Homo sapiens: one gene and its partners. The protein of the gene in region 7 purifies or fractionates together with the protein of the main gene of each other region. This does not show direct contact. Each region holds a gene or a part of one and is shown on either strand. Other genes may lie near its edges. The genes, in order: GRHL2, EEA1, DDX46, GTF2E2, CHORDC1, DSTYK and TCEA1.

Region 1 (3,500 bases), about 48 Mb from region 7:
GTGGCGGGCACCTGTAGTCCCAGCTACTTGGGAGGCTGAGGTGGGAGAATGGCGTGAACCCGGGAGGCAGAGCTTGCAGTGAGCTGAGATTGTGCCACTGCGCTCCAGCCTGGGAGACAGCAAGACTCCGTCTCAAAAAAAAAAAAAAAAGTACTTGGATAAATCAAACATACACAGAAGCATTTAAACAACATTAACAGTACCCAATCACCTGAAGAAGTGTTTGTTTCAAATGTACAGAAGATTCAAATCAGATTTTTTGGATGTTAGGTTGTTAAATTTACTTTTTAAAAAGTTTTAGATAATTCAGGCAACTGCCTCAGTTCCTCTTTATGGCTTATGGTCTAACTATAGACATACGTTTCTGGTTAAAAAATTAACTATGGTTACATAGTATTTTTCCCCTTCCTTACTTCCTCCCTTATTTAAACTAACATTTTCTTCTTGTTCCCTCCTTCCCTTCTTTCCTTCCTTGGTTTGTCTCCCTAATGTCACTTTCCTGGTTTTTTTTTCCTCCCATATTAACTTGGTGAGAACTGCACAGCTTCTGCGCATAGAGATAACGGTGAGTCTGATTTTAGGTGCTGCTATAGTTAGTGAACTTTGCTGCATTCTTTCAGTATTTACAGCATCAGCAGCCCATCCTTGTTACCTGGGCCAAGAGGTAAGATCATTGCAGCAGATGATGTCAACTAGGTTTAACCTTGGAAAAATTTGAAGTCATTTTTAGTATAAGAAAAGCCTTACCCTAAGTTAGAGTTCTCACTCATGATCCCTGGCATTCACTAGGGTACTGATACTCTCTTCCTTTTAAAGAGGTTTTCAATGACTCTTGTTCAATTATAAAAACTAGGCCTGGCCAGGCGCGGTGGCTCATGCCTGTAATCCCAGCACTTTGGGAAGCCGAGGCAGGCAGATCATGAGGTAAGGAGTTCGATATCAGTCTGGCCAATATGGTGAAACCCCGTCTTTAGTAATAACACAAAAATTAGCCAGGCATGGTGGCACGTGCCTGTACTCCCAGCTACTCAGGAGGCTGAGGCAGGAGAATCGCTTGAACACAGGAGGTGGAGGTTGCAGTGAACCAAGATCGCACCACTGCACTCCAGCCTCACTCCAGAGTGAGACTCTGTCTCAGAAAAAAACAACCAACCAACCAAACAAGAAATAAAAACAAACAAACAAAAAACAACAACAAAAAAAACTAGGCCTAACCTGATAAAGGGTAGTGATTGGTTTGGCAAACTTGTCCAGGGAAAATTCCTTAATGAGCAGCAACAGGCTGGATAGGAATTTTTGCTTTGGCCCAGGAGGACTGGTGGGTTGCTTAGTAACAACAACATGTACCTGGGAGTCCCTCAGATAGCTTCACTGGTCTTCAAATTTAGGCCTCCAAATTTCAGATTCACCCTACCATCTACCTGCCTGCATAGTTTCTTCCTTTGGATTAATTCAGGCTCTTCAGATCAGTTTTGTTTATTTTTCCATTACCAGGAGAGCACATTTTATGTTGTAAGTTTCTTATAATGGTAAATGGTAAACTGTATTATAATAGGTAATAACAAAAGTGTATATATATATTTTTTTGAGTTGGAGTTTTGCTCTTGTTGCCCAGGCTGGAGTACAATGGCACGATCTCGGCTCACTGCAACCTCCGCCTCCTAGGTTCAAGCAGTTCTCCTACCTCAGCCTCCTGAGTAGCTGGGACTATAGGTGTGCGCCACTATGCCCGGCTAATTTTTTGGTATTTTTAGTAGAGACGGAGTTTCGCCATTTTGGCCAGTCTTGTCTCGAACTCCTGACCTCAGGTGATCCATTCACCTTGGCCTCCCAAAGTGCTAGGATTACAGGCATGAACCACCACGCCCGACCGAAAGTGTGTTTTATGCTGTAAGTTTCTTACTGGAAATGGTAAAAAAAAAAAAAAGTACTGGATTATAATGGGTTAAGTGGGATAGAAATAAGAAAGCATTCCTTTGGGGATCTCTACCTCCCATCCCCAATTATACTGGGAAGAGAGAAGTGTTTCAGCTTCATGAGTTTTGGTGAGCAGTAGTAATATTATTTGTAAAAAGAGCACCTTTTGATTTGCCACATACAATACTAATCAAATAACACATTTTAAGAATTCTTATAGGAAGTGCTAGAAAAGCTGGTGCATTTCAGGAGATTTCAATGTATATTTTGAAAATAAGTCAGGGTTCTGGAGGTTGTTCATGCATTTGAATGGGCATTCAGTGGAAAGCAATCAATGCCTGTGGTAGATGAAGTACCTTATTTTACTTTGTAATGAACATGGCAATGAACTTTGTGGGGAGCACTTCACTTTCACTCCCAAGGAAATGCTTCCTTTACAAGTGTGAATGCAGATACCCTCCGGAACAGAAACGGAAAGCAAGAATTGCTTGTGGCTTCTCTTTATTTTGGCGCCAGCCTTTCATCTGAACTCTGAATATACAAATATAACTAACCCTGAGAGCCAGAGTCCCTTCTTTTTTAAGGCCCATGAATTTAGATCAGGGTTTTAGGAGACAAGGAAAGGCTGAAGTGAAGGAGAGAGGAGTGGAGAAAGGAGAGGACAGAAGGGAGCAGGAAGAAACTGCTTAACTACTGTTAAGTTGCCAGTGTTTTCTCAGTGGAGTGTGAGCGGCCAGCAGGGGCTGCTGCCGGGGCCTAGGGTGCGACAGCATGTGGCTGTTTGGCCTCCTAGATAATTGGTTTTGGTTTTAATTTGCAATCTAGAATCCTAGAGCTAGAAAGAGCCTTAGGGATCATCCAAATGCATCGTAGGGCATGTGAGTGAGCAAGTATAGGATTTTGATCTAAAAGCCTGGATTGAGAAGAAATGTAAGAAGAAATCTTACATTTTTTCTTCTGTGTTTCATTTTGGGATTCTAAGTATAAATTGAAAATTTGGAGTTTTGATTAGTTTGAAAAAACATGCTTTTTTTTTTTAAGAAAGATTGAGAGCAAGATTAGCACTGCATGTTTACTTCTTAAACCATGAACGTGAGTCTGTGAAATACCTGGTTAAGATTCTGATACCATTACTGGGGAGTTAAAATTGACTTTTCTTCCCACACTCACCCCAAATCATTGTTTTTTGGTTCTCAGTTCAGTGAGTCCCATAAAATAACTGCCTTCTGTACTTCTTGGATCTAACTTTTCAAAGAAACAAGGAACAAAGGTAGCTTTTGCCTCTTTCCTGCATTGCCAATAAGATAATTAACATAAGATCAGAAGATTCTTCTTTCATTATTTTTCATCTGTAAAATGGAATTGAACTAAATGATCTCCGTGAATAATTACCTGCTCCTATATTCTGTGTCTCATTTTCTCCCTCCAGAGGGGTCTGGGCTGGTGGTGGCTCACAGCAGGGGCCATGAACATTAGCAAGACAGGAGGTTACAGGCACAGTGGGACCTGCTTCTGCTCCCAAGCCCCCTCACCTCCTTCACCAAAATCAACGGTGGTCTGATTCAGATGGCAGACTTTTGGAA
Region 2 (3,500 bases), on a different chromosome or scaffold from region 7:
ATATCTAAACAAAAATAGTTCTTACTGATACAAAGAAATAAATGACTGGGTTCACCCTGGTTTAGGTATTTTGACATTAACATCTGAATAGCACTTTTCCTCATGAGACTTCTTTGATTCAGCCTCTCCTTGATTTCACATTTGTACTTATAGATTTATCATTGTCTTCTGCTGATTAATAATACCAGTAGGACAAGAGCTTTTAACTGGCTTCAGTAAGTTCATGAACCACCTGAAATTGTTTGAAAATTTTTGGAATTAAGTGTTATTGGGCTACAAAGTGTCAATTTTGGAAAAACTGCATCCAAATATCATAAGTTAGAGAGTGTAGTGTTAGGCATCATAAGGCCTTACATGCCTATGTGTGTTATATCCACAAACTTTCACCATCTCTTCCCATAAGATAAAGAAAGATTTTTAAAAATGAATTAGACATGGGTTATCTATAATACTTATACCCCAAAGCTTGATGACATGTTATATTTGTGAATAGAGTGGCTTTTAGATCACCAGTTACAAAACTCTAAGGAAGAGATTCAAATTAAAATGTTACGGTAACAACTTTTTAAACTGAAAATATGAAAATCAGAGGTCTACTTTACATAAGGGAGCTTAAAGACTACAAATAACAGTAGTCATAACAAAATGTCTCCTATAATAAAGTAAAAAGGACAAAGGCTAGGATTTTTAAGCACATTTATGTATTATACATCTTAGAGTTTATTAAATGCTGACATATTATACAAGGGATTTACAGGCCAAAGTCATGTCATGTAAGAAATAGTAGAAGAACTGAAAATGTTTATCTTGGAAGAGAAATACTCCGAATAAATATGAGCAGTCTTCAAATACCTCATGTGGAAAGAGGAACAATTTATTCTGTGTAATTCCTAAGGACAGAACCAGAACCAGCGCATGTAAATTACAGGGAAACAAATGTCAGCTCAATAAAATAGACTTAGGAAGAAATATGCACACCGTACACCACCTAGCAAGGATTGTGGATCACTTAGCAGGGTTGGCATAAAGGGAAGTTCTGGACTGAATTTAGACTAGTTCAAGACTTCTTTCAAATTCATAATTCAAAGTCCATCAATTAGAAATAAGCTTATGGCCGGGTGCAGTGGCTCACGCCTGTAATCCCAACACTTTGGGAAGCCAAGACAGGCAGACCGTCTGAGGTCAGGAGTTCGAGACCAGCCTGGCCAACATGGTGAAGCCCCATCTCTACTAAAAATACAAAAATTAGCCAAGCGTGGTGGCAGGCACCTGTAATCCCAGCTACTTGGGAGGCTGAGGCAGAAGAATCACTTGAACCCGGGAGGTGGATGTTGCAGTGAGCTGAGATCACGCCACTGCACTCCAGCCTGGGTGACAGAGCAAGACTTTGTCTCAAAAAAAAAAAAAAAAAAAAAAAAAAAGAAATAAGCTTATTACAAAATAAGCCTTTCTTAAATATATTTTCTAAACAAAATTGGTAATATAATTGTAGAAAATGCTATCATTCTTCCTTTAAAGTCAATTACCATTTATCAACCAACCTTGAGTAAATTTAACCTTAAATATCATGTCAACAATATATATATTAAACAGAATAATAATCTTTATGCAAATATTCCTGAGTGTCTAGCTTTATAAAGCAAAACATACTGAGAGACCACATTGACTATAAACAAATATTATTCAGATCAAAAATGAAAGAAAGACAAATATTTTGATAGGCCACTCAGAAAAATCTCAAATCCTGGCTTCACTCAATAGTATACACTACACAAGCTAATATGAATCACATTTAAGTACAATGAACTTCATTACCTCTGAGCTAGCATATTGTGACTGCAATTTTTTGCATTCATCTTTGAGTTTTTCAGATTCTCGCTCACGTTCCAAGGTCATGTTATCCATTAGTGTTTGAACTTGGACCAGTTCTTTCTTTAGCACGGCAACATCTTCTATACCAGGTCTCTGAAGCTGTGAAACAACACATTTTAATTAAAAATTAAAGTGAAAAACTAAAATAATACACATTTTTAGAATCATTTCACTACAAAGGAATCAAAAGGGAAACAATCATCAATATCAATTTTTAGACTTCAAACATTGAACACTGATATCTTCTCCCACAATAAGCCACTTCCTCTTCCCATCCTACCTCATATTTAATAGTATTAATACTCAAGGTGCTGTATAGTAAATTCACAATTATCTTTACTACTTTATTTGTTTTCCTTCCCTTCACAAACTACATCTATTGGTCATAACAGTGACTTGAAAATGCTACATTCCTTCTTTTTCTATCCTACAAAACTGGTAATAAAAATGAAGGAGCAAATGAAAGCATAGAGTTTGCTCCAGGTTGGATGTAGTTAATTTATATATTTATTGAGAGCTAAATAAAGGAAAGAAAGTCAAGGACAGATCCAAGATTATTAAGTCTTGGGAGAGTATTAGAGATGTATGGTTCCAATAACAGAAATACAGTAATGAGGAAACATGATTACTTTGATTTTATACTTGTTGAATTTGAAATTAAAGCTAGAAATTCAACACAAAGTACCCTAAAAGCAGATGGATTTATAAAACAAACATGCAAGAGAAGACCAGGATCAGAGATGCAGATATGAAAACTACTAAAATGACAGATGATATTTAGATAGAAACAACAAAAATGTTAAGGTAGTAAGTTACGTATCATAACATTCCATTTTTATTTTAAAAATCATATACAGAATATATATGCAGGTGGTAGAATATAGGGAATTGCTTATTTCCTGATTTCACTCAAATTATATTTTTAAACATTTTCCTTCAGGGTATGTATTTTATTTTTAATTTAGAAAGGTATAAGAGTACATCTCAATAAATAATTCCTAAATTACCAGTTCCGTCTTCAGATCTTGAATTACAGTTGCCTCTTTGTTTAATTCTTCTGTCAGACGTGTCACTTTTTGTTCAGCAGCTTCTCGAAGACTCCTTTCTTCATCATACTTTGACTTTATATCTAATTAAAGATAGTTATATAAATATTAGTTTAAGGGGAGGACAGTTTTATAAGTTTCCATATATTACTCTGCATATCTGTATATCACTCTAATTCAAATTCACATTCCTTAGATAACCATAAATATATACAGTAAATTTATACTTCTAATTACATGAAATGAACTTAAAATTAACTGTCTACATAAATTCCACTCAACATTAAGTTAATAATTAGCATTTTAATGTACTTAATCACATATTTTACCTAAAAGCACATGTTAAAAACATATATATGTAATAGTATAACCAAGTGTTACATTTATACTACATTATTTACTTCACTTCTTTAAAATGTTCCTTTTTAATCTTTAAGCATGCCACAGAAGAAAATGTATCTTCTCTAAATTTCAAGAAGAATCTACAAAGAAACACCAGTCCTTTGAAGGCAGGCAGCTAGAGGACAAACAAAATAATTTACATAGCAACTCTGAAATCATTAAATTCCATTAATCACCATT
Region 3 (3,500 bases), on a different chromosome or scaffold from region 7:
CCACCATACCTGGCCAACTTTGTCACTATTAAAAATACAAAAATTATCCAGGCTTTGTGGAGCATGCCTGTAATCCCAGTTACTCAAGAGGCTGAGGCATGAGAATCACTTGAACCCGGGAGGCAGAGGTTCCAGTGAGCCTAGATCGTGCCACTGCACTCCAGCCTGGGTGACAGAGTGAGACTCTGTCTCAAAAAAAAAATAAATTAAAAAAAAAAAAAAGATTAAGGCGCTCTTTAGTTTAAATCTATGACAGCTCATTAAAATAGTTTAAGAGGCTTGGAGAGGGTCTGCTTTGTTTCCTTTTTCTGCCTGCTTTAGAGGCTGCTCTAAACACACTGTTTAGCAAAATGAAGAAAGAAAGAGAAAGAGAGAAAGAGTGAGGGAGGAAGGGAGAGAGAGTGGAAGGGAAGGAGATAGGGAGGAAGGAAGAGAGAGATGGAGGAAGGGAGGGAGGGAAGGAGGGAGAGAGGAAGGAAATTTTACAAATTTCAACAAGGGTGGCAAAAAAAAAAGGAAAGAAAATTAACACCTTGGTCAGCTCTCCTGGAGCAGAATTGGAATAGAACCCTCTTGAATATAACTTATTACTTTACTTTTTACTTCATTTTGTATGTCCCTCAGAGGGCTTCAAGGGATGTCTTTGGGTTACAGGAAATACAGCCTAAAGTTTCCAAACTAAAAACACTGTTTGATGGTCGGACACGGTGGCTCACACATGTAATCCCAGCACTTTGGGAGGCCAAGGTGGGAGGATCACATGAGGCCAGGAGATCGAGAGCAGCCTGGCCAACATGGCAAAACACCGTCTCTTTTAAAGACACAAAAATTAGACAGGTGTGGTGGTGCACATCTGAAATCCCAGCTACTTGGCAGGCTTAGGCATGAGAATCGCTTGAACCCAGGAGGTGGAGGTTGCAGTGAGCAGAGATGATACCACTGCACTCCAGTCTGAGCAACAGAGTGAGGCTCTGTCTCAAAAAAGATTAAAAAAAAAAAAAAACACTGTTTGATAGAGTCTTTGTAGGCACATCCTTCTGGGTCTAATCAAACAAGTAGGGGATAAAGAAAAGGGCCTGCAATTGGGCCACCAAACTCCAGTTGAAAACATACTTTTCAAGAAGCCTGCTATAGCCGAGAAGGCCCAATTTATCACTCGTCTTTTGGAAATTAATTAATGTCTTACCTCAGACGCTTCCTGTCCCTTGACCGAGATCTTCTTTTATCCCTGCTACGAGACCTCTCTCTCCTCCTATCTCTATCTCTACTTCTAGACCGTCTGTCATCTCCACGTTTACTTCTTTTGTCTGAGGGTGAGCGACTTCTAGACCGACTTCCAGAGCGACCCCGGGATGCCGATCGTTTTCGATAGTGGCTAGAACAATAAGTCAAAGATTAAGTTCAGCAAACACCATTAGCTTCTATTACATTTTATTACATTTTTTCTAAAAATAATTTCAGCAGACAAATTTAACACTCAAAGAACTTTTTATGAATTTTTCTAAAATTAGGAGGGAAAAAATGAACCCTTCTGCTTCAGCACAGACACATGTAGAGGTGGAAAATCTGTCTTGAAAGAGAGGCAAGGACAGTGAACAAAACAGACCAAGCTCCTGCCTTTGAGCTCCAGGCAGCTTACACTCCGGTAAAGGAAAAGACGGCAGACAAGTGAAGAAACAAACACTGTATATAGTATGTTTATATACAATATAAATATGACATTTGTTACAGAGGCTTGGAGGAAATAAAGGAGCCATGTAGATATACAGGGAATTTTCCACGCAAAAGGCACAAGTGCAAAGTCCCTAAAGAGGAAGCTTGACTGGTGAGTTTAAGGAACAGCAAGGATGCCAGTTGTGGCTAGTGTTGAAAGAGTGACACAGCGTGCCATAAGACGAGGTCAGAAAAACAGCAGGGAAGCCAAACCTGGAAGGCCTTACTGGCCATTATATAAGGACTCTGTCTTTTACACCAAGATGAAAATCTACTGGAAGACTTTAAGCAGAGGAGTGACACAACCTCATTAATGTTTTTATTTTTATTTTTAGAAACAGGCCTCACTCTATTATCCAGGATAGAGTGCAGTGATGTGCTCACAGTTCACTGCAACTTCAACTCTCTGAGGCTCAAGCAATCCTCCCACTTCAGCCTCCCAAGAAGCCGGAACTTCAGGCATGCGTCACCACACTTAGCTAATTATTATTATTATTTTTTTTTTTTGAGAAAGAGTCTGGCTCTGTTGCCTAGGCTGGAGTGCAGTGGCACAATCTCAGCTCACTGCAAGCTCCACCTCCCGGGTTCACACCATTCTCCTGCCTCAGCCTCCCGAGTAGCTAGGACTATAGGCGTCCGCCATTACGCCAGGCTAAATTTTTTTTGCATTTTTAGAAGAGATGGGGTTTCACCATGTTAGCCAGGATGGTCTCGATCTCCTGACCTCGTGATCCACCTGCCTCAGCCTCCCAAAGTGCTGGGATTACAGGCTTGGGCCACTGCGCCCGGCCACTCAGCTAATTATTTTTATTTTATTTTATTTATTTTTTTTGAGACAGAGTCGCACTCTTGTTGCCCAGGCTGGAATGCAATAGCACCATCTCAGCTCACTGCAACCTCTGCCTCCCAGGTTCAAGCAATCCTCCTACCTCAGCCTCCCAAGCAGCTGGGATTACAGGCCTATACTACCACGCCCAGCCAGTTTCGTATCTTTAGTAGATGAGGCAGTTTCACCACATTGGTCAGGCTGGTCTGGAACTCCTGACCTCAGGTGATCTACCTGCCTCAGCCTCCCAAAGTGCTGGGATGGATTACAGGCATGAGCCACCGCATGCAGCCTTTTTATCATTTTTTTAAATTTCTTTTTTGAGACAAGGTCTCACTCTGTCACCCAGGCTGGAATGCAGCAGCTCAATTGCTACTCACTGTAACCTCAACCTACTGGGCCCCAGCAATCCTTCCACCTCAATCTCCAGAGTAGCTGAGACCAAAGGCACACACCACCGCGCCCACCAATTTTTTTTTTTTTTTTTTTTGGGTAGAGATGGTGTCTCACTATGTTGCTCAGGATTGTCTTAACCTCCCGGCCTCAAGCATCTTCCCACCTCAGCCTCCCAAGTAGCTGGGACCAAAAGCATAAAAGCGTGTGCCACTATGCCCACCTATTTATTTCTTTTTATTTTTCATTTTTGTAGAGATGGAGTCTTGCTATGTTGCTCAGGATGGTCTCAAACTCCTGGGCTCAAGCAATCCTTCCACTTAATGTAATCCCAAAATGCTGGGATTACAGGTGTGAGCCACTGCACCTGGCCTAATGTTTTTAAAGTATTATTCTGGTTGCTGAGAGAACAAACCAAACAAAGGGAGGCAAGGACAAAAGGAGAAAGAATAGGCAGGATTAGCAAAGACCAGCACTATAGCAATCATCCAGGCATGAGATAGTGGTGGCATAGATCAAAATGGAAGGTGGAAAGATTTTGAGAAATATCAAAATCTGGATATCTTGA
Region 4 (3,500 bases), about 23 Mb from region 7:
TCAATGGTCTTCCCCATCTGCTATCAACTGGCAATGGCAGCTGTGGAAGGAACTGAAAAGGACCAGACTAGTGCATACAAGAACTTTACCTATAATGTCAGCTTGAGAATGAAACTGAGTAGGAATGCAGGAATTACTGAATATAATTATGTTTCTAGTCAGTTCTGTTGTACAGTTAGTATCAGAAGGAAAGCTCTTCAAAAAGAGCAACCCTATATATTTTCTTCTGCAGCTGCCAGCCTGACCCTGAAAGGAGAAAGAGAAGAAACACAGAAAGAAGAAAAAAGGGAGAATAGAATAGTAAAATGATCAAAGTCATTGTTAACTAAATGTTGGTAGTCTATGAATTCTCAAGGTTAGCTAAACCAGCAAATTTAAATGTGGATTACCATTGTTTGTGTATCACTAATACAATGAACTACAATTATACTGATTAATGGTCATGTTACATTATAAAAGTCAAGACCTGTATTTTGCTTGGTAAAAAAATAAATGAATTGTATGTTAGGAATTTTACATTTGGTTTCTAGAATCTATCTCTGGTCCTAGAAAGTAGTCTTCTTAGTTTTCACTTCATATTTTAAAGCGGTAAACATTTGAATTTTTAAATGCTATTCATTTCCAAATTAGCATGGTCACTGACTGCGTTGGGGTTTCTTCAAATGATGTGTGTTCATACACAGCATTCGCGACTTTTTTTCCACATCAAGCCATAATAGCAGTAATTGTGCAACAAAATATCTTCCTATCCCTGCAGTACCTTATGCTTTAAATTTCCTAAAACAAAAACAATTCAATTTACAAGCACACAAACTATAAATCTGGCAATACAAAATAAGCATTAATCTGTAAAAACATTAAGTCGAATTGGTACAATGACTTCTTTACAACTATTACACAAAGTCTTACCTTTAACATTTTGAAACAGATAACATAAAATTATATGAAAACCAACAAATCAATCTTATAAATGTGTACATTCAAAAAACAAAGACCCTACACCATTTCTTTTAAGAAAAAGTAAAAAGCATTATCAGATTTCACCATATTAAAACATTCTAGGCAAGGCGCAGTGGCTCATGCCTATAACCCCAGCACTCTGGGAGGCCGAGGTGGGCGGATCACTTGAGGTCAGGAGTTCAACACCAGCCTGGCCAACATGGTGAAACCCCGTCTCTACTAAAAACACAAAAATTAGCCTGGTATCGTGGCACATGCCTGTAGTCCCAACTACTCGGGAGGCTGAGTCAGCAGTGGGCTGAGATCATGCCACTGCACTCTAGCCTGTGCAACAGAGCAAGACTCTGTCTTAAAAAAAAAAGAAAATTCTAGTTACAGGAAATCTCTCTTGATAATCAACTAAATTCTTACCTCAGTCATTAGCCATTGTTTCTGCTTGAGTCCAATATCTAAATGTTGTGTTTCATCCAAAATTTCATCTAAGGTTAGAGGATGCGTATCTCCTCGCTGATGCCGTGTCTATCAAGTGAAGAAATTGTTATTAGAAGACAGTTTCAAAATGCTAGATGCATTAAATCATAGTTACATGTAAACAAACCTTCAGGAATGAAAAACATGTATTATTCCAGGTAGCATAATTATAGTGACGAAGAGCCATAGACCATGAAATCAGAATGGGGTTGAAACTCATTGCTCTATAAAATCAAAAGACAAACTGACAAAAAAATATATGCAACTCGTATCACCAAGAGCTATATTCTTCCTAACATTTCAAGAGCTTCAAAAAACTAACAAAATAGACCAGGCACAGTGGCTCATGGCTGTAATCCCAGCACTCTGGGGGACTAAGGCAGGTGGGATCACTTCAGGTCAGGTGTTCGAGACCAGCCTGGCCAACATGGTGAAACCCCATGTCTACTAAAAATATAAAAATCAGCCGTGCATGGTGGTGCATGCTTGTAATCCCAGCTACTTGGGAGGCTGAGGCAGGAGAATCGCTTGAACCTGGGAAGAGGAGGCTGCAGTGAGCTGAGATCATGCCACTGCACTCCAGCCTGGGAGGCAAGAGCAAGACTCTGTCTTGAAAAAACACAAAACTAACAGAAAATGACCCAAAGACAGAAACGCGCAGATTGCAAAAAATGACCTTAAACATAGGAAAAGACACTCAACTTTCACCAAACAATCCTATTTCTAGAAACTTATCCTACAGAAATACCAGTACCACACAGAAAAGTGACTTATGGTCACTGTAGCATTGTTCATAAAAGGAAAATATTAGAAATAACCCAAGCGTCCATATTAGAAGACAGATTAACTACAGCACATCCATTCCACTACACAGATGTTCACAAAGTAAATGTAAAAGTTCTCTATGTGCTAATTTGAAAAGATGTCCAAGACAAATTAATAAGTTAAAAAACATATGTATCATGCCTATCCAAAGAAAACACACACACACACGTAGATACCAAAAGCTAGAGAGGATGCAAAGGAACAGGAGCTGTCATTCATTACTGGTGAGTATGCTAAATGGTACAGCTACTGTGGAAGACAGTTCAGCAGTTTCTTACAACACTAAACACACTCTTACCATTTGATCAATCTAGCAATCACGATCCTTGGTATTTACCCAAATGAGCCAAAAAATTATGTACATACAAAAATCCACTAAGGATGCTTATTACAGCTTTATCCATAATTGCCAAAAGCTGGAAGCAACCAAGATGTCCTTCAGTAGGTGAGTGGGTAAATAAACCGTGGTATATCCAGACGATGGAATACTATCCAGTGCTAAAACGAAATGAGCTATCAAGCTATGAAAAAAACATGGAGAAACCTTAAATACATATTACTAAGGGAAAGAAGCCAATCTGAAAAGGATACATACTGTATGGCTCCAACTGTTGACATTCCGGAAAAGGCAAAAACCATGGAGACAATAAAAAGTTTAGTGGCTGCAGGCCAGATGCAGTGGTTCACACCTGTAATCCCAGCACTTTGGGAAAACGAAGCAGGCCACAAGGTAAGGAGATCGAGACCATCCTGGCCAACATGGTGAAATCCCATCTCTACTAAAATACAAAAAATTAGCCAGGCGTGGTAGCGGGTGCCTGTAGTCTCAGCTACTCGGGAGGCTGAGGCAGGGGAATCACTTGAACCTGGGAGGCGGAGGTTGCAGTGAGCCAAGATCAAGCCATTGCATTCCAGCCTGGCAACAGAGCAAGACTCTGTTTTAAAAATAAATAAATAATTTTAAAAATTAAAAATTAAAAAAAGTTTAGTGGCTGCCAAGGGTTGAGGGGAGAGGATGAACAAGCAGAGCCCTGAGAATTTTTAGGGCAGTGAAAATACTCAGGAGGATACTAGAGTGGTGGACATAGGTCATTATACACTTGTCCAAACCCACAGAAAGAACACCACTAAGGGTGAACTCATGTAAACTATGGACTTTGAGTGGTAATTTGTCAACGTAGGTTCATTGACTGTCACAAATGTACTCTTCTGGTGCAGGATGTTGATAGTGGAGGAAGCTGTGG
Region 5 (3,500 bases), on a different chromosome or scaffold from region 7:
AAAGACAAAACTTCAGTCATGGCTCATTCTTAATCTCTTTAGTAATATAATACAGTCTGTACTATAATAGTATGAGTTAATTTTTTCTTTAAATGATGGGCTGTTATTTTACTTAAAGGGCAGTGAGAGGCCAGGCACTGTGGCTCAAGCCCATAATCCAGCACTTTGAGAAGCCTAGGAGGGAGGATCCTTTGAGCCTAGGAGTTTGAGAACCAATCTGAAAGAGATCCTGTCTCTCCAAAAAAAATAAATTAGCTGGGTTTGGTGGTGTGCTCATGTAGTTGCAGCTACTCAGGCTGAGGCAGGAGGATCTTGAGATTGACTTTTTGAAAAAAAAGGACAAAGGCAGTGAGATGAGAAAAACTAAATATTTTATCCTAAATTCATTTGGTGGTATTATAACAATTATGAGGATATCAGTTTTTACATACTTTTCTTTTTTTTAAGAAGAAAAGTCCCTCTCTTACCCAGGCTGTAATGCAGTGGCATTATAGCTCACTGCAGCCTTTAACTCCTGGGCTCAAGCCATCCTCCTCCCTAACCCTCCCCGGAACTATAGGTGTATGCTACTATGACTGTATTAGTCCATTTTCACAGTTACGAAGAAACACCCGAGACTAAGTGATTTATAAAGAAAAAGAGGTTTAATGAACTCACAGTTCCATATGGCTGGGGAGGCCTCACAATCATGGCAGAAGGTAGAGCGAGTAATAAAGGAATGTTTTACATGGTGGCAGGCAAGAAAAAAACCATCAGAACTTCTGAGACTTATTCACTATCATGAGAACAGCATGGGAAAAAGGCATCCCCATGATCCAGTTACCTCCCACTAGGTCTGTCACACACCATGTGGAGATTAGGGGAGCTAGAATTCAAGATGAGATTTGGTTGGTGACACAGGGAAACCATATCAGTGACCGACTAATATTTTTTATTATTTTGCGGAGACAGGGTTCCACTTTGTTGCCCAGGCTTCAAGCAGTCCTCTTGCCTCAGCCTCCCAAAGTGTTGGGATTATGGGCATAAGCGACCATGCCTTGCCTATGTACTTTTAAAATGCCTCTTTTGTCAGTTTTTTCATCGAGGATATAGAATGAATAGCCTACGATTTTTATTTTTATTGCTGTGTTTATTAATATGTTTAATACTTATTTATTGAGTGGACTTAAATTATGTATACAACACTTAGCCATTATGAAATGTTAGAAGATGTTGTTTTTTAAACCCTACTGAAATTGCCTTGCAATACGATCGTATCTGAATTTACAGATCCATATGCCAGTGTCCACATAAATTATCTCCACTGGTAGAAGTGAGTATGGATTCACTTAGAACTTACTTATATTTCATGTTTATTATGTGCTCAGCATTGAGCTTGGGCATGGGATGTAAAAGTACATTATGGTCCCTTCCTCAGCATTACTCATCTTGAAAACCTTGGATTCCTAGTCTTTATTCCTTTCTCGTTAGTGCAACTGATTAATACTTAAATATGCTGACAATAGCGTGATTATTTGAGACTTACTATTCTAATATAAGGAGCTTTTCTGTTAAGACAGAATGTAGATACATTGTAACAATTATTTATAAAATACCTTTTAACCTTTTAATGGGAATCATTTGATACACAAAGCATTTGGCTTCTCAGAAAGCTTTTAAGGTTATTAATTTGGAGTACAAAGAAATATTTTGGTATATTAATAATGGTAATAAGGTTTCAAAATTCTCCAGCCCAGATGAACCAATGACAAATTTGGAATTAAAAATATCTGCCTCCCTAAAACAAGCACTTGATAAACTTAAACTGTCATCAGGGAATGAAGAAAATAAGAAAGGTAAGATTTTATTTTGTTTTATTGTTAATTATTTTCTGGTACAGTTAAGCAGTTATCCAAAAGAGAGAATAGTAGTTTACTGCATATAAATAGGGAAAAGTCGCACATTGTAGTTAAGAAACTTTTTCTTCTAAATGTCAGATATGATAAACTACAAATACTTCAGAACCTAATAGGTTAATTCCATATGTCTTTATTCAAAACGAGAACCTATATTAAATTTTTTTTCTTTTATGGTTCATTATTTTTTTAAGAATCAGCTAAATTTCTTTGATATTTTAAAATGTTTTCTTGTACATTATACAAAATATATTCACTATTCTCTGACTTTATACCTGGTACCATGGGAGGAAAACACCCTTTCATGATTTATTTTACAAAGTTAAGATACTGGATATAACATTTTGTTATGGAAAAAATTGTGTCCTGCATTGTTGAAGACACCAGGTCCTCAAAAGAAGAAGAAATGTGTCATATATCAATTTGGGGATATAAGCAAATCCTAGTCACAGTCGTTTTCTAAAAAGTATTGTTTTCTGGAAAAACCTAGTTTTTAAGAATGATGCCACAGCGAAGTTCTATTTTAACTTTTTAATTTGATTTTTTTTTCTTTGTTACAGAAGAAGACAATGATGAAATTAAGATTGGGACCTCATGTAAGAATGGAGGGTGTTCAAAGGTATATATCACAAGATTTGTGATGTGTTATGAAGTAAAATTTTAATTTTGAGGAAAGTGCAGTTTGCTGACTCAATTCAACAAACATTTGCATGCATATTATATATTGAACATTATGCTGGGGACTAGGGCTACAATCATGGATAAGAGACTCTGAGTAGCATCATGTCCAGTAGAATAATGAAAATAAGTAATTCCAATTCACTTAACATTTACTGAGCACTTATTATGTGCCAGACATTTTATGGGCTGGAGACATAGTATCAAATAAAGCAAACATTTCTTTTCTTATGGAGCTGATATTCTAGAATGGGGAGAAGAGCAACAAATAGGTAGTTAGATATTACAAAATCAGGATGATAGGAAGAAAATAAAACATACTAAGGAGTGCTTATCAGCAAAGCCCTTCTTGACATAGTAACACTAAATCAGAAATCTTCATGTTGCACTGGATGGATTATGTAAACCTGGGTGAAGAGTGTTCTGGATGCAGTAACATGAGCAGAGGCTTTAGAACTTGGCTATTCAAGGAATAACAAGGTCTGTGGAGCTTGGGCAAGGGTAGCAGGTAAGACAGGTAGACAGAATTATGGTGGTTCTTTTAAGCCATGATGAGGTATTTGGGCTTTATTCTAAGTATTAGGAGAAGCTATTACTTGCTTTAGGGAAGGGTTTTAGAAAGATTCTGTGACTGGTGAATGGTAAATACATGGTGATGCAGCAGGAGTGGAATTGGAAGAAGAGAAACCAGCTAGGATGCTATTGTGGAAGACCAGACAGTGGGATTGGAGAGTAGTTTGTTGAGAAGTGATTAAATGTGGGATGCGGTCAAACATACCAGTAAGCCATTTTCCTGCCTCTTGCTACTTGATATAAAACTTGCATATCCTCCAACATTTCTTCTCCCTCTCCTTTTTTCTCCATCGCTCTTAATCACTTTATATTACTTATTTTGTATACTTATTTTACTTCTGAGCTATACCATCT
Region 6 (3,500 bases), on a different chromosome or scaffold from region 7:
GGCTACAAGGCTTGGGCTCTAATCCTGCATGCCATGCCACAATGTATGAGACAATAATTTCCAGACCATGCTTAGGACAGGTCCAGAGGTAATGGCCCTCAGTGCAGACAGAGCCCTCAGTACAGACAGAGCATGGCCTCTTCAACAAGGATGAAGAATCCTGGATTCTAAAAACTGATAAGGCTTAAGGACTAAAGAAGAAAGTTAAATGGAATGATGAGTCTGAGAAATTAGGATGGTGGGGAAAGAGCAAGCAAAGACAGTAAAGGCCTGAAAGGGAGCACATGTCTGTTAGACACAGAAAACTAAATATAGAGAGGCCATGCTGTAGCTCTTGGTACAAAATCTAAACCAGGGTTCTAGATTCTTCTCTGGATCTTTCTCATAGAGATGAATGAGGCCAGGACCCACCTCATATAGTGAAATTCCAAAGCCAGATCATTCCAGTGCTTCTCATCTGGAGGGACAACTGATTTGAGGGCACAAGGGAAGTGTCCTCCCCAGTTGTCACACAGGTATACCACACCATACTGGCCCCGGCCCAGTTCCTGTCCCAGTTTAGGTTTACCTATAAGGTACAGAGACAGAGATAAGGCAGGAGGAATGGGAACTTCGTGGGCAACCTCTGTAAGATTCTTTTTTTTTTTTTTTGAGACAGAGTCTTGTTCTGTCACCCAAGCAGGAGTGCAGTGGCATGATCTCTGCTCACTGCAACCTCTGCCTCCTGGGTTCAAGCGATTATTCTGCCTCAGGCTCCCAAGTAGTTGGGATTACAGGCATACGCCACCACGCACAGCTAATTTTTACAGTTTTATTAGAGACGGGGTTTTGCCACATTGCCCAGGGTGGTCCCGAACTCCTGGGCTCAAGTGATCCACCCACCGTGGCCTCCCAAAGTACTGGGATTACAGGCATAAGCCACCATGCTGGCCCTGTAACATTCTTCATTGTGAACCTGCCTTTAGGGTCAGGAAGCTGTAATCAAGCCCAGGGATAAAATTCTAGTGTCATTCTAACCCAATAGAAAATAATCTAACTGGTTTAATTCAAATAAACTGTGGTTATGTGGTTTTTTGTTTTTTGTTGTTTTTTTTTTTGGAGACAGAGTCTTGCTCTGTCACCCAGGCTGCAGTGCAGTGGTATGATCTTGGCTCACTGCAACCTCTACTTCCTGGGTTCAAGTGAATCTTCTGCCTGAGCCTCCTGAGGAGCTGGGGTTGCAAAGTGCCACCACGCCCAGCTAATTTTTTTAGTAGAGATGGGGTCTTGCCATATCGCCTAGGCTGGTCTTGAACTTCTGAGCTCAGGCAGTCCACCCACCTCAGCCTCCCAAAGTACTAAGATTACAGGTGTGAGCCACCACACCTGGCCTGGTCATGTTATTTGAACTATATAAATAGCAGGAAGAGACTTTAGGAATTCAAAAACATCAGTAAGGGTTTAGGCAGCTTTGCAAAGAAGCAGCTTTAGACACTAGGATTCTCTGAGGCTGGACATAAGAATGTCAGGTATCCTGAACCATCCTCCAGTTTATCTAGAAGAAAACCAGACTCACGATGAAGCAAGACATCCTGTAAAGAACAGCTTTCCAGAGAAAGGCGGGCCAGGCGGGGAGCATGATCTTTCCGAACCCTCAGCCATAGATCTTCCGTTTTCTCTAACCGGCCTGAGTGGCCAGCTTCCAGCTGGGAGAGAAACAGAAAAAGTACATATGACTTAAGTCCCTAGCTTCAGCTTCCTCACCTGTTATACAGGGATAATAATATCTACTTCATATAGATAATTGTGAGAATTAAACAAGATACATGTAACATGTTTAGCACAGAGACTGGCACAGAGTAGACTCTCAATAAATAATAACTTTTCCTCCTGGATGCATACTCACATCTATCCACTCTCTGCCTGGACACACCCACTCCCCGCCAGTGGACAATCAGATGTCAAACAATTATGAAATATAGAAGTTGGAAAGTCATGTCCTTCTGTCATTTGTTCCTAAAATACTATATAAACATACAAAATTCCTACTCCTATTATCTTTCCTCACTCTGAAATGGGCAGGAATTAACTGAGCTCACTCCATTCTCCCGAGAGTTAGGAAAATATCCACATGAAAAATTTATTGAAAAAACTTCCTATAACAATCTAGAAAGAAAATATACTGATGATTTTAATATACATATGTGTGTGTGTGTATATATATGTGTATATATATGTATACACACACAGACACACACACATATTATATATGAAGAGCGGAGAGCGAAATATTCCCATCTGGATGAGGCTCTTCTCTGCTTGATCCAGCTGTATCTCCTTTCCTACATACCAACCTGCCGCAAGGAGGCTGCAAAAGCCTCGTGGGAACTATTGAGCCGAGTCCGGAATTGGCTGCAAATGCTCTTAGCCAATTTGGAGGCGCTGAGGCTCTCAATGGCTTCCTGGGCCACCTTCCTCTTCCATTCCAGAGTGATGGCAGGTGGGCTCACCCATGTGATGCGCTGGATGATCTACCAGGATGAAGACAGCGAGATCACCAAGGAATGAGAGACAAGAACCACTACAAAGATCCAGTGTCCTTCCTTTTCTGGGTTACCCATTCATTAAGAGCAGGCTCATAAGATGGGAGCCATACGAAGTCCAAAGTTCCTTTCCAATTCCATCTACCACAAAATCAGGTCCTAGCCCAGAGAAAAGCATCAAAGAACACCAGGCCTAGTCTACATGCTCACAAACCCTCAATATATTACATTCAGTGCCAGGGAGTGCCTGATAATCTTTCTGAAGTCAGTAAATAACTCTACATAAGAGCCAGATCAAATTCCAGAACAGAAACCACATTCACAGCCTCTGGCAACAACAAAGCCTAGTTCTGAGAAAAGATTTAGGCTGGGAAAAAGAAATATGAAGAAGCTAGTGTGGTAGAGTCTTATGGCTCCATGAAATATCATTTATCTTTTTTTTCTATTTTTCCATTGTCCACAAAGAGCACCCAACATAAAAATCATTTAAACCCAAAACTTCTGAGAGTTCAAGGGAACAATGTTAATAATTATTTAAGAATAGGCATAAACCAGAATTCTCCCAGGCAGGCAAACCAGAACAAATGGTCACCCTGCCTTAACAGAAGATCCTAGATATCTGTTTCCTACTGGGGTCACTATGATTCATTTGAGCCAACTAGGGGCTTTGAAATCTTTCTCTAAGTAATAATCCCTACCTGTTTGATTTGCTCCCATAGCATCCTTGTAACTGACGACCCTGAGTGAAACGTGACTTCAACATGATAGGCAGCATTTAAGATCTGAAAGAGACAACGCCAAAGAAAACATGTCCTCAGTAGTGTGGCTATTTTAAAAATGCAATAAATGATACTTATTTCAAGAACACAGTCCAGACTCAGGGTTTCCAAACTTACCCCTCAATATATATGCAGAGTCAACTTAAGCTGATTATTTATTTTGTGACTATCTAGCCCCTTCTACCTCATCTTTATATTC
Region 7 (3,500 bases):
ATTTCCTACTCATAAACTTTTGTACTTTTTCAATTTTTAACCACAAAAATAACTACCAACAAAATTTGTTTTAAGTAAAGGCCCCTTTAGAGTTTAGTGATGCTATTTTTTAAGTGCTTAATGTTCTATCGGTGAAAAAATCAATTCCCCAAATCTACTATCTGAAACATAGTAAGTTGTCCCTTAAGGAGACAATCTTGAGTTTACAGCAGATAACATAGCACAAAAACCTATTTGGCAAATGAAATTAAGACAGTGATAAAAAAAATTTTCACATATGCACATGCAACCAAAATAACTATAACACGGTTTTCAGCTGTTAAAGAATAAAAAGGCTAGTCATATCGTACATAAATGTAAGTTATCAATATTACAAAAAGGAACAAATTATCCAGAAGACAGTTAAGCCTAAAGTACTCATAAGCCATGTGGAGGAGCGTGAAGAACTTTCCTTAAATTATATAGTCCTGCAAAATAAAAAGGATTATGGCCAATTTACCTAGTAACCAATACAATTGCTTATGAACTTTTAAAAAAGAACATGGTCATTTTATTAATTCTTATATTTTATAAATTTTGACATAGCTTTCATAGTAACTATTTCTGTGAAAGTATAAATATATCAACTTGGTTTTAGTTAACTAGAATCAGTATTAAGAAAGCATTCTGACAAGGCACAGAGGCTCATGCCTGTATTCCCAGTACTTCGGGAGGCCAAGGTGAGAGGATCATTCGAGTCTGGAAATTTGGGATCAGCCTGGACAATGCAGCAAGACCCCATCTCCGCAAAAAAATAATAATAATTTTTTTTAAAAAAAATCATTCTTACACTTAAGAAAGAAATCTTATCTCCTCTTGAACTAGTCCCCAGTTATCCATGGTTTTGCTTTCCATGGTTTCAGTTATCTATGGTCTGAAAATATTAAATGAAAAATTCCAGAAATAAACAATTCATCAGTTTTAAACTGTACATTGTTCTGAGTAGCATGAAGACAGCCTGTACCATCCTACTCTGTCTCACTTGGAATACAGATCATCCCTTTGTCCAGTGTGTGTCACTGTAATGCTACCTACCCATTAGTCATCCACATCATCAGGGCTCGATGAGGCAGGACCACCTGAAGCAGATGAGCCTCCTTCTGATGGATCATCAGAAGGTCAACAGCAGCCTAACACTTAGTCACAATGCCTACATCATTCACTTCGCCTCATCTCATCAAATGAACAGGGGTGAGTACAGTGCAAGACACTGTGAGAGACAGAAAGACTACACTCATATTACTTTCATAACAGTATCTTGTTATAATTATTCTATTTGATTAAGTTATTATTGTTAATCTCTTCCTATGCCTAATTTATAAATAAAACTTATCAGTACATATGTATCGGAAAAAACGTGGTATACATAGGGTTAGGTACTATCCGTGGTTTCAGGCATCCACTCAGGGTCTTAGAACATATCCCTCCATGGATAAGTGAGGGACTATCATACTGGTAATTATCTTTGCTATTTATTTTAAAACAGGAGTTGCAAGCATTTTTATATAAAAATAAGAATCTATAAACAATCACAAACCTGTGTGTAAGTGCAATTCTTCTTTTTACATTTGCCACATGTGAACAAGTCAGTCTGGGTCCCACCAGTCTTGGCCATCTGATGCTCTCTGATGGCTTCTTTGGTCAAGTTTTTCCGCATCTCTTTCAGCTCATCACTAGCCATTTCCTATGAGGTAGGGGGCAATACCACTCAGTTATAGACACCTTCTATATATATCCTGAATGCTTTTATGCTCAATTAGCCTAATAATAATAAAACCACATATCAACCTTTAAGGTTTTAAAAGCATTAAATTAATATTTTTCCTCAAAGGCTTTGTAAGAGTTTAATTCCTTTTAAAAATTTCTTCAAATACTTAAAAGTTTACATGTGAAAATTGGATTTAAGTACTGTTTAAAGGCTACTAAAACCACCTTTGCAAAGATTATGACAGTGAGAGAAATTGAACATGGCTGACTCCATCTTGCTTCTAGTGTCACAGGCTGGCTGTCTTCCCTCTTTCCTGGGCACAGGCCAAGTTAACCATGGAAGGAATTTAGTTTAACTTTGATGCAAAGATGGTAACAGTCCTTCCCTAAAATCGATCCCTCCTTGTTCAGAGCCTGAGATCACCTTTGTTAAGACTAATGAAATGCCAGAGGATTAGGATTATGGGACAGGCCTGAACTCTGCTAAAATGTAGACATAGTTTCTATAATCCCTCACTGCTCAGGAGTCATGTGGCCAGAGGACACAAAGTGTGTGACTTCCCCAATTGCTCCTATAGGTAACATTATTATTGTAGAACCTGAGATTGGTTTTTTGAGATGTTTTTCAGACTGACCCCTCCAGAACTCAGGCCCCTCACCCAGAGGTACAGAAGGACCAGTTCCCACATCCCTATGATTGCATCCCCAATCAATCAGCAGCACCCATTCCCTAGTCACCTAGGAATAGTTACCACCAAACTATTCTTGTAAAACCCTAACCTCCAAGTCTTCAGGGAGACTAATGTGAGTAATAACTTCGTCTCCTGCATGGCCAGCCTTGCATTAATAAAACTCTTTCTTAACCGCAATAGCGCAGTCTCAGTGAATTGGTTTTGTCTGTGTAGTGGGCGGGAAGAAGCTGTCAGGTGATTACACTATGAACAATGTAAACTTACAACGAGTACCTCTAGTATCCAGATTATAGTTTCTAATAGCATTGCCTACACCCCACTCCCAAAAGAAGTCAGGGATCTCTGGAGGAATGCCTGATTCCAGTTTTGAGGCAAGAAATGTATAGAATATGCCAGGGTCATCTTCTCACGCCAGTTTTTACCAGCTACAGTCATACTTTGCTTTATCTTGCTCTGCGCTATTGTGCTTCATTTTATTGCACTTTGCAGTTACTGCATTTTTTACAAATTGAAGGTCTGCAGCAATGCTGTGTTGAGCAAATCTATTGGCGCTATTTTTCCAAAAGCATGTGCTCATTTCATGTCTCTGTGTCACATCTTGGTAATTCTCACAATATTCCAAGCATTTTCACTATTATTATATCTGTTAGGTAATCTGTGATCAGTAATTTCTTATGTTACTATCACTGTTTTAGGGGCACCACTAACTTTGACCACATAGGACAGTAAGCTTGACAAATGCTGTGTGTGTTCCGACTGCTCCACTCTTTCCCCGTCTCTCTTCCTCTCCTTGGGCCTCCCTACTCCCTGAGACACAACAATATTGAAATCAGGCCAATTAATAACCCTACAATGGCCTCTAAGTATTCAAGGACAAGGAAGAGTCAACATGTCTCACTTTAAATCAAAACCTAGAAATAAGACTAAGTTTAGTGAGGAAGGCATATGGAAAGCTGGGATAAGCCAAAAGCTAGGTCTCTTACACCAGTTAGCCAAATTGTGAATGCAAAGGAAAATTTCTTGATGGAAATTAAAAGTGCTACTCCAGTGAACACATGAATA

The links.
Region 1: the proteins of TCEA1 (region 7) and GRHL2 fractionate together in Homo sapiens (co-fractionation; one large-scale study listed by BioGRID). This does not show direct contact.
Region 2: the proteins of TCEA1 (region 7) and EEA1 fractionate together in Homo sapiens (co-fractionation; one large-scale study listed by BioGRID). This does not show direct contact.
Region 3: the proteins of TCEA1 (region 7) and DDX46 purify together in Homo sapiens (affinity purification with mass spectrometry, with the first as the bait; one large-scale study listed by BioGRID). This does not show direct contact.
Region 4: the proteins of TCEA1 (region 7) and GTF2E2 fractionate together in Homo sapiens (co-fractionation; one large-scale study listed by BioGRID). This does not show direct contact.
Region 5: the proteins of TCEA1 (region 7) and CHORDC1 fractionate together in Homo sapiens (co-fractionation; one large-scale study listed by BioGRID). This does not show direct contact.
Region 6: the proteins of TCEA1 (region 7) and DSTYK purify together in Homo sapiens (affinity purification with mass spectrometry; one large-scale study listed by BioGRID and IntAct). This does not show direct contact.

Annotation. Positions count from the first base shown.
Region 1 is NC_000008.11:101,498,939-101,502,438, forward strand, and holds part of GRHL2 (grainyhead-like protein 2 homolog), read left to right. Parts: intron 1-3,500. UniProt on the Homo sapiens protein: Transcription factor playing an important role in primary neurulation and in epithelial development. Binds directly to the consensus DNA sequence 5'-AACCGGTT-3' acting as an activator and repressor on distinct target genes.
Region 2 is NC_000012.12:92,849,296-92,852,795, forward strand, and holds part of EEA1 (early endosome antigen 1), read right to left. Parts: intron 3,002-3,500; coding exon 2,880-3,001; intron 1,972-2,879; coding exon 1,816-1,971; intron 1-1,815. UniProt on the Homo sapiens protein: Binds phospholipid vesicles containing phosphatidylinositol 3-phosphate and participates in endosomal trafficking.
Region 3 is NC_000005.10:134,761,779-134,765,278, reverse strand, and holds part of DDX46 (probable ATP-dependent RNA helicase DDX46), read right to left. Parts: intron 1,376-3,500; coding exon 1,187-1,375; intron 1-1,186. UniProt on the Homo sapiens protein: Component of the 17S U2 SnRNP complex of the spliceosome, a large ribonucleoprotein complex that removes introns from transcribed pre-mRNAs.
Region 4 is NC_000008.11:30,613,237-30,616,736, forward strand, and holds part of GTF2E2 (transcription initiation factor IIE subunit beta), read right to left. Parts: intron 1,480-3,500; coding exon 1,372-1,479; intron 1-1,371. UniProt on the Homo sapiens protein: Recruits TFIIH to the initiation complex and stimulates the RNA polymerase II C-terminal domain kinase and DNA-dependent ATPase activities of TFIIH. Both TFIIH and TFIIE are required for promoter clearance by RNA polymerase.
Region 5 is NC_000011.10:90,209,550-90,213,049, reverse strand, and holds part of CHORDC1 (cysteine and histidine-rich domain-containing protein 1), read left to right. Parts: intron 1-1,731; coding exon 1,732-1,835; intron 1,836-2,455; coding exon 2,456-2,514; intron 2,515-3,500. UniProt on the Homo sapiens protein: Regulates centrosome duplication, probably by inhibiting the kinase activity of ROCK2. Proposed to act as co-chaperone for HSP90. May play a role in the regulation of NOD1 via a HSP90 chaperone complex. In vitro, has intrinsic chaperone activity.
Region 6 is NC_000001.11:205,159,703-205,163,202, forward strand, and holds part of DSTYK (dual serine/threonine and tyrosine protein kinase), read right to left. Parts: intron 3,305-3,500; coding exon 3,221-3,304; intron 2,511-3,220; coding exon 2,334-2,510; intron 1,686-2,333; coding exon 1,556-1,685; intron 569-1,555; coding exon 412-568; intron 1-411. UniProt on the Homo sapiens protein: Acts as a positive regulator of ERK phosphorylation downstream of fibroblast growth factor-receptor activation. Involved in the regulation of both caspase-dependent apoptosis and caspase-independent cell death.
Region 7 is NC_000008.11:53,977,449-53,980,948, forward strand, and holds part of TCEA1 (transcription elongation factor A protein 1), read right to left. Parts: intron 1,724-3,500; coding exon 1,577-1,723; intron 1,250-1,576; exon of another isoform or gene 1,075-1,249; intron 1-1,074. Other genes in the region: LYPLA1-TCEA1 readthrough, read right to left, coding at 1,577-1,723.